2 separate regions of the Homo sapiens genome follow, and region 2 is linked to region 1. Evidence: fine-mapped expression QTL. A gene starts in region 1. The other region holds a variant in brackets. All regions are shown on one strand. Distances are from middle to middle.

Region 1 (2,728 bases):
ACTCGTGGATACACAAACACACACGCATCCCTCCATGGTCGCGTGTGTGAGACCTGCCTGCGGCTCACACTACTGCCCACCGGTGCACACCGGCCCCGGGCGTACACGCGCACGCCCGCCACCTGGTCCCAACACACACAAACCACACGTCCCACCAAAATAAACCCACCGGAGGCGCACACGCCCGCGACCACCACGCAAACACACTCCTGGAGACACACCTCTCCGGCCACAGGCTCGCGCCCCGGGAACCCCGCCGCGGTCACGGGCCCCTGTTCACACACAGCCCACGGGGACACGCGCCGGTCTCGCTCTCCGGCCACAGCACGCACAGCCCAGGAACCACGACCGCAAACATCAGTGGCGGTGGCCCCGCGCCGGCCCTGCTCCGAGCCTTCCACGCATTAGCCGGCTGGATCCACAGCGGCGTCTACACACCCACCGCCGCATGCGCGCACCGCCCGCGGCTCGGGTGGAGCGGCTCCCGGGGACACAGCCTGGGGACCCGCACGCTTTCCAGGCCCGCGGCCCCGGGCGCGCCTCCTCGCAGGCGGGGCGCGGGTGGACGCCGTGGGAGCCGCTTAACCCCCTCTCCCCCGGCCTCCCTGGGGCGCGTCCTTCCCGGGCGCCCTTCGTTCCTCCTCCCTCCCGCTCCGCCGCCTCTCTGGGGCCCACGTTCCCCTCTATTCGTCCTCTCTGCCCCTCTGCGCTCAGACCCTGGCCCTGCGGCCCACCCCACCCGCCGCGCCGCAGGGCGGAGGATGTCGGGGTGCGTGGGAGGGGGGCGCTCCGCGGTCACCCGGGGAGCCCCCCCAGAGGCGGAGCCTCGCGCGCCGGGGTCACTCCGGGGCGGGTCCCGGACACGCCCGAGGTCACCGAGGAGCCCCGAGGTCACCGGCCCGGCGCGCCGCCCCGCCCTCCCCAGGCGCTCCAAGGACGGCTCCCCGCGCGCCCGGCTCCCCGGGCCCCCTCGCGCCGACCGGCCCTCCCGGAGGCGGTACCTGAAGTCGCTGTACGGGTGGATGATCCAGGCCCCCGCCGACTTGACGCGCTCCTGCTCGCGCTCCACGGCCTTCTGGCTGCCGAACATCCGCAGCGAGAACTTGTTGACGCCCGGCTGCAGGAGCGCGCCGAACTGGCGCTGCATGAAGCTGGCCTGGCTGCCGCGCGGCTCCCCCGCCGGGCCCGCCTCCTCGCTGCCCGCCTCCTCCGCCGGCCCCGGCCCCGGCGCGGGCCCCGAGGCCGCCCCGCGGCACGAGAACGACACCTTGGGCCCCCGCGCCGGGCCCTCGGGCCCCGCGGGGCTGCACTGCGGCTCGCCGCGCCCGCACTCGCCGTTCGGGCTGCCCTTGGCCGTGCTCGCCGCGCCCGGGGTGCCGGGGCGGCCGCACGAGCTGTCGCGGCTGCGGAGCCGGCCCCGCGGGCCGCCCTCATCCGCCGCCTCCGGGGGCAACGCCTCGGCCCGGGGCGGGTGCTGGGGGGGCGCGGGCCCGGGGCCCGGGGGGGGCGCGGGCGGCGGCGGCGGCGGCGGCTGCTGTTGGGGGGGCGCGGGCGGCGGCGGCGGCGGCGGCCCCGGCGCGGGGGTCGCGCCCGGGCTCTCCCCGGGCCGCCCGCCGCCCCCGCGCGCGTCCATGGCGAGGCGGCGCCGGGCAGTGCGGAGCGGAGCCGCCGCCGCCGCCGCCGGCCGGAGCCCGAGGGAGGGGGGAGGCGGGGGCGGGGCGGGGCGGAGCCGCGGGGGGCGGAGCCTCGCGGCGGGGGAGGGGCGGGGGAGGGGCGGGGGCGGGAGACCCGCCTCGGCTGCGCCCCCTCCCCGCGCGCCGCCTCCGCTCGGCGCCGGGAAACTCGGGCCGCGGGGTCGGGGGCGCCCCAAGGTCACGCGGCCCGAGGCCTCGGAGCCCCGCGCGGGCCTCTCCCCAGGAGGGGAAACTGAGGCCCGCGACGTGTAAGGACGCGCCCAAGGTCACCGGGCCCCGCTGCCCGGCCGGAGCCGCCTCTCCTGCGCCGCGGCTTCCACCTCTGTCCGGAGGGCACCGGCGCGGGGAGGGTGGACGCGGGCCTGGGAGACGGGAGAGGCCGCCACGGCCAGCGCCTCCTTGCTTTCTGTGAGGTTTGAAGACTTCCACGACGAAAGGGTGTTTCTAAAGGTCACAGGAGCCCTTGCTGGGTCGCCTGTGGGCCCTGGACAGAGACCCTTGAGTGCGTGGGGAGGGGCAGGCCGGCTTGGGCGCCGTTCTGGGAGACTCAGGCACTCCTCTCCCTGGTCTGCATTTGAGGAAACTGAGGCCAAGCCCAGCCAGACAAGGAAAACTGGAAAAGCCACCCGAGGGTGTGGGGTTCCCACCCACCCCTCAAACAGTGCCCTGGGGAGCCGTGCGGCGGGGGTCTCCTCTAGGTCTGGTGGGCTTTAGATTGGGGTCACAGGGAGACCCAAAGCCCACTAGCGCCTTCGCACGGGTACCAGAGCCCCCTGCCCCGGGGTTGCCTCCTTTCCCCGACCCCTCGGACTCCGGGTGCAGCTGTGCCCCCAGTGCCTCCAGTCCCCAGCTCTGAGACAGGTGCTTCCCAAGGCTCTGCTTCTGGGCCGAAGCCGGCTGGGCGTGGGTGCTGCTTGGTGCCAGGTGACATGAGGCCTCTGTCCCTAGCCACCCAGCCCACCAGACAGCCGGGAGGGGGCAGGTGAGGAAGCTGGCAAGTGAGAGAGAGGAGACAGACAGTCACACTCGAAGAA
Region 2 (2,996 bases), 21 kb before region 1:
TACACCACGTTCCCTTTAGGGACCAGCTATCGAGCTGTGCCCTTATGACCTGGGGCACTTTTTGGTACTTTTTTTTTTTTTGAGACGGAGTCTCGCTCTGTTGTCCAGGCTGGAGTGCAGTGGCACAATCTCGGCTCACTGCAACCGCCGCCTCCTGGGTTCAAGCGATTCTCCTGTCTCAGCCTCCAGAGTAGCTGGGATTACAGGCGCCCACCACCACGCCCGGCTAATTTTGTATTTTTAGTGGAGACGGGGCTTCACCATGTTGGCCAGGCTGGTCTCGAACTCCTGACCTCAGGTGATCTGCCCGTCTCGGCCTCTGAAAGTGCTGGGATTACAGGCGTGAGCCACCACGCCTGGCCATATGTGGGTTTAAAGATTTGACTTTGCAACTCCTAAACACCTAAATAATGACTAAGTAGCGTGGGTTGCCAGGGGCTGGGGACGGGGAGTGAGCTGGTGACTAACACCCCAGGTCTCCTTTTGGGCCCATGAGAATGTTCTGGAGTGAGGCTGTGGTATCGGGTGCAGCACTCTGTTAATACTAAAAGCCACCGCATTTTATGCATTTTGTGGTCTGAGTGTTATATCTCTACAAATGAATGAATGGAAACCGTAGTCATCAAATGCAATTAAACATTCTTGGCGAAGCGAACCGCAGTGTGTGCCTCCTGGGAGCAACGGGTGTACACGCCCCCCCAGAGGCATTCCCGGGGCCCGAGGTCCCTAGTGTCAGGCCCGTCCTGCCCGCCTCCTCGCCCAGCTCCTCCAGCCCCTCCTCGGGGCCTCTGCCCGAGCCAGGTGCTACACCGGGGACACCCTGCCTGGCTCACACACGGCCTTGCTGATGTCGCCTCCCCGTCCTCGTCCCTCCCCGCTTCCCAGAGCTGCTCTCTGCTGCCTGCGTGATCACGGCCGCCATCCCTAGGCCCCGCTTCCTGAGGGTGGGACCTTCAAGCACACGGCAGGGCACGCAGTCGGCGCTCAATAACTGTTTGATGTGTGTTGTGGGTTGAACTACATCTCCCAGAAAGACAGGCTGACATCCTGACCCCCGGTTCCTGTGAATAGGACCTTATGTGGAAATAGGGTCTCTGCAGACATGGCCCAGTTAAGGCGAGGCCACGAGGAACCGGGTGGGCCCTGATCCAACGACGGATGAATTTACAAGAAGAGACAGAGACACACAGGGGAGAAGGCTGTGAGCAGATGGAGGCAGAGATCAGGGAGATCAATCTGCAAGCC[A/G]AGGGCGCCTGGAGCCCCAGACGCCGGAAGAGGCAGGAAGGATCCTCCCCAGGGGCTCCGGGGGGGTAGCACGGCCCGGCCCACGCCTTGATGTTGGGCTTCCGGCCTCCAGGACGGTGGGAGGCCGAATCTCCGCTGTTCAAGCCACTCAGCCTGTGGGTATTTGTTCCCGCAACCCTGGGAAACTTGCCCAGGGTCACTCAGGCTACCGGAACAGAGCTGGGAGTTAAACCCGCTCCAATCAGCCTCAGTGCCCCCAGGACCTGGTGCTCAGCGGGGCCTCTGCGGCTCCTCCCTCCCCACCCCCTGCCCTGCTTCTGCCCCGCCCTGTCAGGCACAGACCCAGGCAGTTCTGCTAAGGGGGCAGCGGGAAGCAAGGCGGGGGTGGCGGGGGTCCTGGGGGTGCAGAGGCTCACGGGGCGGGGAGGGGAGGGTGTGTACGCAGGTCTAGCTCGAGTCCCTCCTGCTGCAGCCTAGGCACCTCGCCTCCCTCAGGGACCGGCTCCTGGGCTCCAGGAGAGGGAGGCCGGCCCTGTACCGGAGGCTGCCTCCCGCCCGCCCGGCGCCCGCCTCACCTCCCGCAGGGGCCCGTTGAGCTCGCCCAGGATGCTGTCCTCGTCAAACATCTTGCCCTGGTAACGGTGCTCATAGTAGTCGTGGATCTTCTGGCGGAAGTCAGCTGGCAGCTTGTGGAAGGACATGTACTGCTCCACCTGCTTGTACTGTGGGGAGGAGGCGAGGCTGGGTCAGACACCGCCCCCGGCCTGCAGCGGGCACAGGGGCACCTGCTTGTACTGTGGGGAGGCGAGGCTGGGTCAGACACCGCCCCCAGCCTGCAGCGGGCACACGGGCACCTGCTTGTGGGTCAGACAGCCCCCCGGCCTGTGGCGGGGAGATAGGCCTTCACACCTGCTTGTACTGTGGGGGGTCAGGGCTGGGTCAGACAAAGCCCCCGCCCACAGCGGGGAGACAGGCCTCCGCCACACACAGGGGCGGCCAGATTCAACAAGAGCAAATAAACATGCTTCTATTTAAATCAAAGTTGAATTCGTTTCAATGATAAATTCCATTTTTTTTTTCTGAGACACTGTCTCGCTCTGTGGCCCACGCTGGAGTGCAGTGGTGCAATCACAGCTCACTGCAGCCTCCGCCTATGGGCTCAAGCAATCCTCCCACCTCAGCCTCCTGAGTAGCAGGGACTGCAGGTGTGCGCCACCACGCCTGGCTGATTCTTTTATTTTTTGTGGAGATGAGGTCTCGCCATATTGCACAGGCTGGTCTTGAACTCCTGGGCTCAAGGGATCCTCCCACCTCGGCCTCCTGAGTAGTGGGGATTACAGGTGTGCACCACCCTGCCCTGCTAATTTTTTAATTTTTTGTAGCGATGAGGTCTCGCCGTGTTGCTCAGGCTGGTCTTAAACTCCTGACCTCAGGCGATCGGCCTGTCTCGGCCTCCCAGAGTGCCGGGATTACAGGCAGGAGCCACTGCACCAGGCCGGGTGCCCTGAACTTTATCTAGCAACCCTATCCCTGAGGAATGGGTGGGCACCTGACTCTACGAGGAGAGGCCCCAGGTACCCTGACACACAGGACCCCCTTCCCGGGGGCTCTGGCCCTTCCCTGATGATCTTTCCAGAAACCATCGGGTCAGCCCCTCCTGAGCAGGGAAGGGAGCGTGGGTGCTGGGCGGGGGTGCCAGGCCCTGCTGTCCCCAGGACGGTGCCCCCCGGCAGCTCCAGCCTCACTTCCGC

What was found.
Region 2: its variant is fine-mapped to the expression of HCN2 in whole blood (TOPMed, PIP above 0.99). The same link has a PIP of 0.9 or more in blood mononuclear cells.

Annotation. Positions count from the first base shown.
Region 1 is chr19:588,851-591,578 of GRCh38, reverse strand. It overlaps HCN2 (hyperpolarization activated cyclic nucleotide gated potassium and sodium channel 2), which reads right to left and starts at 1,698. Exons shown (of 8, transcript NM_001194.4): 1 at 1,002-1,698. The coding sequence starts at 1,633. It also overlaps the pseudogene LOC100420586.
Region 2 is chr19:609,230-612,225 of GRCh38, reverse strand. It overlaps HCN2 (hyperpolarization activated cyclic nucleotide gated potassium and sodium channel 2), which reads right to left. Exons shown (of 8, transcript NM_001194.4): 5 at 1,821-1,967. It overlaps LOC107987266 (a long non-coding RNA gene), which reads left to right. Exons shown (of 2, transcript XR_001753828.2): 2 at 1,072-2,286. Among named protein-coding and RNA genes, the nearest start is that of HCN2, 21 kb to the right of the region's middle. RefSeq lists an enhancer at 1,007-1,316. The variant A/G (reference allele first, on the strand shown) is at 1,246.